2 separate regions of the Homo sapiens genome follow, and region 2 is linked to region 1. The links come from fine-mapping of genetic effects on gene expression. A gene starts in region 1. The other region holds a variant in brackets. All regions are shown on one strand. Distances are from middle to middle. Region 1 holds the start of FAM193A (family with sequence similarity 193 member A). Region 2 overlaps FAM193A (family with sequence similarity 193 member A).

The links.
Region 2: its variant is fine-mapped to the expression of FAM193A in whole blood (INTERVAL, PIP 0.97).

Annotation. Positions count from the first base shown.
Region 1 is chr4:2,534,346-2,538,727 of GRCh38, forward strand. It overlaps FAM193A (family with sequence similarity 193 member A), which reads left to right and starts at 2,302. Exons shown (of 21, transcript NM_001366318.2): 1 at 2,302-2,825. The coding sequence starts at 2,571. RefSeq lists silencers at 1,186-1,345, 1,566-2,215, 2,226-2,275, 2,536-2,635, 2,716-3,005 and 3 more.
Region 2 is chr4:2,696,969-2,701,350 of GRCh38, forward strand. FAM193A (family with sequence similarity 193 member A) reads left to right here. Exons shown (of 21, transcript NM_001366318.2): 19 at 2,712-3,576. Among named protein-coding and RNA genes, the nearest start is that of TNIP2, 57 kb to the right of the region's middle. RefSeq lists an enhancer at 1-136. The variant T/C (reference allele first, on the strand shown) is at 2,149.

The DNA.
Region 1 (4,382 bases):
AGTCTCGCTCTGTGGCCCAGGCTGGAGTGCAGTGGCTTGATCTGGGCTCACCGAAAGCTCCGCCTCCCAGGTTCACGCCATTCTCCTGCCTCAGCCTCCTGAGTAGCTGGGACTACAGGCATCCGCCACCAGGCCCGGCTAATTTTTTGTATTTTCAGTAGAGACGGGGTTTCACCGTGTTAGCCAGGATGGTCTCAATCTCCTGACCTCATGACCCGCCCCACCTCGGCCTCCCAAAGTGCTGGGATTACAGGCGAGAGCCACACTGTGCCCGGCCTCTTTTTTTTTTGACGGAGTTTTGCTCGTTGCCCAAGCTGGAGTGCAATGGCACTATTTCGGCTCACTGCAACCCTTGCCTCCCGGGTTCAAGCGATTCTCCTGCCTCAGCCTCCCGAGTAGCTGGGATTACAAGTGTGTGCCACCATGCCCAGCTAATTTTTGTATTTGTAGTAGAGACGGGGTTTCGCTTTGCTGGCCAGGCTGTCTTGAACTCCCGGCCTCAGGTGATCCGCCCACCTCGGCCTCCCAAACTGCTGGGATTACAGGCATGAGCCAAGGCACCCAGGCCTAATGGTCATTATTGTCATTCATTGATTCAGCAAATAGTAGAGTGCTGGGTGCTCAGCCTCTTGCTTTGCAGTAGCTTGGGTGTCAGAGGTGTGTGAGGCAGGCATTCTCAGGTTCTCTCCTGCCCAATAAAACCTTTTGTCTTTGGGGATACTGGTGACATCATGAATCCCAATCCTGTGCAATGTGCTATGACAAAGGAAAGGACAGGGGTTGAGGCAAGGGGCAGGGACAGCCTATGACACTGAAAAAGAGGCCAGAAACGCATTCCTACCCGCTCTCTCAAAATCCATGTTCAGTGGCAGGATCATCCAAGACCCTGATGGGGCGGGGGGCCTTTTTTCGTCTAGGATGGTATCTGAATGGCTTTAAGGGTAGCTTTCTTCTGATCACATGAGATTTCTGCTTGTGTCATGAAGAATGGGTCAGAGGATCAGGAGGCTGTGGCTGCAGCTGGGGCGGGTTGCGGGGACCCAGGACGAACAGTAGAGCTCGGTTAACGCTGCAAGGGGAGCCTGGCAGGCCGTACATCCCAATGCCAAGCCCGCCGCCTCTCGGCCTGACACCACCGGTGGAACCAAAAAGGGGAAATCATGTCCTTTGTGCCTCTGTGTCTGTGGTAAGCGGGGCCCTCCAGGGGGCGGAGCCGCCGGCAGGGTCCCCCCGTGGCCCGGGTCTCAGGGCAGAGCTCTGCCTGGGGCTCGCAGATGTCTGCAAGGCCGCGGAGGGAGGAGGGTCCAGACGCAAGCCCTTATTTCTGATCTGGACGTCTGCGAGGGTCTGACCCGGCTAGTCGTCCCCGAGGTGCGTGAGTGCGAGGGTGTGGGACACGGCCGGATCGTCCTAGGGCCCCGTGGATTAGCAAGGCACCGGGACCACTGGAGAGGGCTTAACGGGATAGCAGGGAGAGGGCGGGCTCGGGAAGAGCACCCTTTAGGCGAGGGGTTCTCGGGGAACCGACCGGCGTGTCCCAGCCCCAGGCCCGGTCCAAGATTCGCCGGCTCCGCCGCTGCCTCCGCACCCAGGCGGACCCCACCGCACCGCGCCCGGCTTTCCAGCGCTGCCCGAACCCCCGCCCAGCCCACGAGGCAGGGATTCTGTGGTCCTCACTGAGTCATCTGGACCAGAACTAGACTAGCCCAAGGTCACCGGGCGTTCCTGGCGAGGCCAGGGCCGCGCCGCGCCGCCCCTGGTGCATCCCGGGAGCCGCGCCGGTCTGCGGCACCTGGGCGGCGGACAGGGGCGCGGGCGAGGCGGGCGGGGCGGGCGGGCAGCGGACACCGGTCAGAGAGGCGGAACTCCCTGCCGCCAGCCGTGTAGTTTGCCTCGCGGGCGGCGGCGCGGCCTCCTGCCGGCCTAGCCCTACGCCCGACCACAACGCCCAGAAGGCCGCGCGGCGCGGGCGGGACCTGCGGCGACGAGCGAGGCGGTGACATCACCGCCGCATCCAGCTCCCTGGCCCCAGCTCCTCCCAGCGCCCGGGCCCTCGGCCTCGCAAGGCCTGACGGGAATCGTGGTCCACCCCCGGGTACCCCCAGCTGCTGCACGGGCAGCACGGACTTCAGTTCCCGGCGTGTCCTGCGCGCCGAGGCACGTTAACGGCAGGAGGGGGTGGGCAAGCAAAGGGAAAAGCAGAGCCGGGGGGCGGAGTAAGGCGGGGTGGGGGTGGGGGGTGGGGGCCCACACCCCTCCCCCTCCCCGCTGCTCCTTCCCCCTCCCCCGACGTAAACTGGGATCCCTTTCCCCTTGTGTCCGCCATATTGGACTCTAACTCTGGTCAGCCGCGGCGCCGGGACTGTGGACTCGCGGTTCCTCCCGCCCAGCGGCCTGCCCCGCAGCTCCCGCCCGCCCCAGCCCTCCCCGACCCGGACGCGACCCCGCGCAGCGCCCCCCGGCTGGCCGGAGCGCCCGCCGCCGCGGCCGCCTCAGCCTCCCCGCCTTCCCCGCCCTCCGCCGCCGCCCGCGGCCCCCGCGCCCGCTCTGCGCCCCTCTCCCCGCCCGCCATGAGCCCAGCCGACGCCAAGCGCGGGGCCAAGCGCCGGAAGAACAAGCGGGGCGGCGGCGGCGGCTCGGGCGGGGGTAACGGCGGCGCGAGCAGCGGCAAGGCCGGCCCGGCGGCGGCGCTGCGCGGTTCCCAGGCCGCGGGCCTGGCGGCCCCGGGCAGCGCGGCAGGCCTGGTGGGCGGCGCGGCGGCGGCCAACGGGCCTCTCGGCGCGGGCGCGAGCGCGGGCGGCGCCGCCCCCGGAGGCTACTTCGAGGTAAGCGGCGGCAGCGGGCAGGGGTCGATGGCGGTACGCGGTTGCCGTTCCCTCGCGCCTTGGCGGAGCTCGGCCTCCCGCTGTCGGCCCCGGGCCTGGGAGCGGGATGCTGCGGGCGGGCGGATAACGGGTCCTGCGGCGCTGCGCTTGCCGAGGTCCCGGGGCAGGGCGGCAGGTGGGCCGTGCTCGGCGTGACGCGGCCTCTGTCAGCCTCTTGAGAGGAGAACCTGAGCAGAGGCGGCGGGAGGGCTACACCGGGGCCGCCGCTCACGGCGACGGGCTGGTCCGCAGGCTGGAGCAGCCCCTCAACGGGCGGGGACGTCTCCGGGGTGCAGCTCCGCGCACGGCGCTTCGCCTTCCGCTGGACCCGGCGGGTGATACCCGCGAGGCCCGGGCTTCTGTCGTGGCGCCTCGCCCGCTGCGGCGGTTCCAGAGCGACTGCGATTCCGGGAGTGAGCAAAGCTGCCCTTTCGCTCCCAGGGCTTTGAAATGTTTCTCTGGCCACCTTCGTTATTCCGTGCGCGTGATGATTGAGAAGGGCCTCCCGGAAGTTTTCCTTTGGTCCTCCTATGTGGTTATTTGAAATCTACCTGACAGCCACCTGGAGCTGGCAGCCCTGGCCCCTCCTCCCCCGCTTTGTTAAGTTTTCAGGGGTATTTAGTGGTTTGGTTACTCAGGTATGTATTTAGGGTTCGAACTTAAGGAATTTGAAAGGTGATTTTTTTCAGTTTTGTTTATGAAGACAGCTAGCACACATTGCACCTACCAATTATGGATTCCTGCCACTTTTATTCAACCGTTGGTCACAACATTTCAGAGGGTACACTATTTATAAGTGGGTATGCAATTGGCGCAGTCATTTCCAGTTATCCCATTGTCTGCTGAAAGAGAATAGATTTTTTTTGAAAAGTTGCGTTCTTATAATGTTATTTAAACTCTTAAATTATGTAGTTTTAAAGATATTGCAATTAAAAAATGAAAGAAGCGTTGGGAGTATTTTTGTGCTAAATCATGACACAAATTGTTCTTTTTTTTTTTTTCTTTTGAGAACGGAGTCTCGCTCTGTCGCCCAGGCTGGAGTGCAATAATGGCGCGATCTTGGCTCACTGTAACCTCCGCCTCCCGGGTTCAAGCGATTCTCCTGCCTCAGCCTCTCGAGTAGCTGGGACTACAGGCATGCGCCACCATGCCCGGCTAATTTTTGTAGAGACAGGGTTTCACCATGTTGGCCAGGCTGGTCTCGAACTCGTGATCTCAGGTGATCCGCCCACCTTGGCGTCCCAAAGTGCTGGGATTACAGGTGTGAGCCACCGCGCCCGGCCGTTTTTATTATTATTATATTGTTACATTAGGGTCTTGGGCTGTAGTCCTGGACTTCAGTCTCCCGAGATTGCCCTCATCCAGTATCCTGGAGATCAAAACAGGCCGCAGTTCTTGGGATCAAGGATGAGTCTTGAGCGTTTGGATCTTTGGGGTTTTTAAGGGCAGTGTTTGCTGCTGTCGGGTAGGGGAGGGCGGGGGGGGTTTGCCTGTGCATATCCTTACACAAAATATTGA
Region 2 (4,382 bases), 160 kb after region 1:
TCAGAAGTGTCTTTGATATGAGACTGGGGCGGGGCACTTGGCACAGGGAAGTCTTCTGGACTCAGGTCTGAGCATGTCCCCCATGCTGCTCTTGTCCCACTGCTGTTCCAGATGAAGACCAGCACATGGCATTGATTAGAGGGGAGGAAAATAAGTCTTCATGGGAAGACATGAGCAGTTCCCTCCTTACCAGAGGGCATGGTGTGTCACAAAAAGCAAATGTCAAATACAAAAAACGTTAGCCAGTCATGGTGGTGTACGCCTGTAGTCCCAGCTACTCAGGAGGCTCAGGTGGGAGGATCACTTGAACCTCAGAGGTGGAGGTTGCAGTGAGCCGAGATTATGCCACTGCCCTCCAGCCTGGGTGACAGAGTGAGACTGTCTCAAAAAAAAAGACAACTTTTTTCTCTTGGAGGATTGTCTAAATGCCCCTATGCTGGAGCAGTTCCAAAGAGCCTTCTGGTTTCAGCTCCCTAAAAGTGTCAGGCTCCAAGAACCAGACCTCAGTGAGCAGATGTGGGCTGCATGCAGAGGGAACTTGTAGGTTCCTGGGGTTCTGACAGTAGGACAGTGGTCTTGGGAAGAGGCCAGGTTTCTGTCTGCAGCATGGTCAGGCAAAAAGGTGAGGAAGAGGACGATCCCACAGTGGACCAGAGGGTGGGCCCGATGTCCTGTGTTGTTACTTGTATCTTAGCTGTTGTGATTGTTCTACCCTCAAGAGCTCTGCTCATACCTCGCAGTCCTACAGTAGATTTAGACTGACTATTGGGCCTGATTGGGAGGCTTTGGGGGAGAAGCCTTGTCCCGTGCCCCAGAAGACTAGAGACTGCTGGAGTGCAGAGAACACAGTGTGTCCTCCATTCAGGAGCGTCCAGCATCGGGGTACCCACGATGGTCCAAGGCCCTGAGACGTCCCATTGGGATTCACTGGAGGCCTCTGGGACGCCTTCCTGAGTTTTCAGGGTACTCTCCACCCCAGGCTCTTGCCCTCTGACCTTGCAGGTGGTCTGAATCCAGACTTGAGGCCCAGCTGAACCTTAGAGGCTGATGTCATAGGCCCTGCCCAGCACCCAGTCCCACCTCGAGGGACCACCTCCTGGTGCTTTCTACGCTGCACCCATTTTACAGAGCAGCTCACAGATGTGTGTTGAGGCTCACTGGCTGGCTGGTTGTTGAAGGGACAGCAATAGTTGACCTATGGACTCTGTCCCGTAGCAGGTCCAAACCGGGGGCCTGTGCTGGGGCAGCCGTTCTGCTGGAGACCAGGGCACCTGCCTTTACATGCTTGTTATTTGTCCATATATTGACAAGGCACGTGTGCTGGATTTAGATCAGCTCTGAGAGGATGCCAACTGGCCAGTGTGTGCCAGCGAGTGTCCTGATGGAGTTGGTCTCTCCTCTGCTCCCGTGCAGGCCCACAGCTCACTCTAGACACTGGACTGCAGGACCCATCCACGAGGTGGCTGCTGGGTGCTGCTCCTGACATACACATGGAGAAGGATGTTAAATAATTTTTACTTGAATTGTCAAATGAAATTTTTAATAACATACCATTGTTAAATTTTTATCATAATTTTTAAGTTTTTCAAAAGACAAGTCAATTTGCCTGTTTAAAATATTGTGAAAAATAATTTACACTTGGGGAGTACTTTTCTATTTCTCTAGGAGAAATGCTTTTGGCAGAGTTTCTCATAAGCCCCAGCATTTCTAAAGGTTGGTGGTGGGTGGAGCCGTGCTCCTAACACTGATGACTCTCATCTGCTTTCTGAACACAAAGAACAGTTTCCATTTGTGCCCCTGGAGTTTGTGTGCATCACTACTCAAATGCTGTCTTTACTTGGGATGAAAATTAATTTTCCATCAAGTTGGACAGTGAGTCATTTGCTCTGTCACATCTGTCACACTAGTGAAAATATATGGCACTTCTGTTTATCTGCTAGGGTGGGAAGAAGGAATTTCTAGTTCTTTACTACACATTGCTTTTTGTGGTGCCATCACAGCTCATTGCAGCCTCAACCTCCTGGCTTCAAGCGATTCTCAAACCTCAGCTTCCCAAATAGCTGGGACCACAGTCGTGCGCCCTCACATCCAGCTAATTTTGATACTTTTTGTAGAGACGGGGTTTTGCCATGTTGCCCAGGCTGCTCT[T/C]GAACTCCTAGGATCACAGGTGTGAGCCACTGCACCAGCCTGGTACACATTTCTTACATTCCCTGTTCAAGTGAATGCATTAGCCTTCGCCTGGAAAGGTGGGTTTGCTCAGAGTTCTGGCGGCACGTGTACAGCCTCAGTACTGCCCGGGCAGTCTGTGGTATTGGTTACATCATCCACTCGGCCAGGCGGCATGATGCCCTGCCGCACCTGTGAGGGGGTAGCTGACTCCCTGGATGTGTGCTTTGCAGCTGCTTTGTCCTTGGTTACTGTGTTTAGTACCAGGTCAAAGGCTATCGGGAATTTTTTGTTAACTACCACCCCCCCCCCCACACACACACACACAAATAAGTAAGCATATACTTTAGTAAATAGATGAAGTTTAACAATCCTGCAGAGTAAGAGAATTGGAGGTGGGTGTGTGTTAAGTTTTGATTTATTACAGCCTCTTCAGAGTTTATGTTCCATATGTGATTCGTTTTTGAAATTATCTTAGTTTTTCTGTATGACTTAATTTTTAGCACTCACTGTAGTCTTAAATTGCCTTCTTTTTGCATTGGCAGCTGGAGGAGAAAGCTCGCCTAGAAGCAGAGGCCAGGGCCCGGGAGCACCTGCACCTCCAGGAGGAGCAGAGGCGGCGGGAGGAGGAGGAGGATGAGGAAGAAGAGGAGGATCGTTTCAAGGAGGAATTTCAGCGGCTTCAGGAGCTTCAGAAGCTAAGAGCTGTAAAAAAGAAGAAGAAGGAGAGGCCAAGTAAAGACTGCCCCAAGTTGGACATGCTCACTAGAAATTTCCAGGCAGCAACAGAGTCTGTTCCTAACTCTGGAAACATCCACAATGGCTCACTAGAGCAAACTGAAGAACCAGAAACCTCTTCTCACTCCCCATCCAGGCATATGAACCACTCAGAGCCCAGGCCAGGGCTAGGGGCTGATGGGGATGCTGCAGACCCCGTCGACACCAGAGACTCCAAATTTCTCCTCCCCAAGGAGGTGAATGGGAAGCAGCATGAGCCACTCTCTTTTTTCTTCGACATCATGCAGCACCATAAAGAAGGAAATGGCAAGCAGAAGCTGAGGCAGACCAGCAAGGCCAGCAGCGAGCCAGCGAGGAGGCCCACAGAGCCCCCCAAGGCCACAGAGGGGCAGTCCAAGCCCCGGGCCCAGACTGAGTCAAAGGCTAAGGTGGTCGACCTCATGTCCATCACAGAGCAGAAAAGAGAGGAGAGAAAAGTCAACAGTAATAACAATAACAAAAAGCAGCTGAACCACATCAAGGACGAAAAGTCAAACCCAACCCCTATGGAGCCCACCTCTCCCGGTGAGCATCAGCAGAACAGCAAGCTGGTGCTGGCAGAGTCCCCTCAGCCAAAGGGCAAGAACAAGAAAAATAAGAAGAAGAAAGGAGACAGAGTCAACAATTCAATTGGTAAATACAGAATAGCGGGAAGGTATTTCTGAGCGATGCCTGGTTTTCCATGTGTGATGTGCTAGTATAGGAAAACACTGGGTTTGGCATGCTCTCGCCATGTGGCCTCCCTCCTGTAGAAAAGAGCGTAGAGGGGCCAGGCATGGTGGCTCACACCTGTAATCCCAGCACTTTGTGAGGCCAGGGTGGGCAGATCACCAGAGGTTAAGAGTTCGAGACCAGCTTGGCCAACATGCTGAAACCCTGTCTCTACTAAAAATAACAAAAAAAAATTAGCTGGGCTTGGTGGTGCACCTGTAATCCTAGCTACTCGGGGAGGCTGAGGCAGGAGAATCGCTTGAACCCAGGAGGCAGAGATTGCAGTGAGCCAAGATCATGCCGTTGCACTCCAGCGTGGGTGACAGAGAGACTCCATCTCAAAAAATACATATAGAGAGAGAGAGGATTTCTACCCCCTCCAGTTCCCCAACTTTAGTTCCCCAACATCAGTATTTCCCATGTTTGCTTCGTTATTCTCTCTCTCCCTCTCTCTCTTATTTTTCTGGACAGAAGGAGAGTCACTTCATACATGATACCCCTTTAACCTAAAATACTTCCATGTATATTTCCTCAAGATAAAGACACTTATAAAACCACAGTACAGTGATCAAAATGAAGAAGTTGACACTGATCCAATGCTATTCTCTAATTGTAGACCTTACTCATGTTTCTCCAATTGTCCTTTTAACATCCTTTATAGCAAAAAAAAAAAAAAAAAGCTCTTGTTGTTTCTCCTGACATGGGATCCAATCCAGGATCCCATGTCG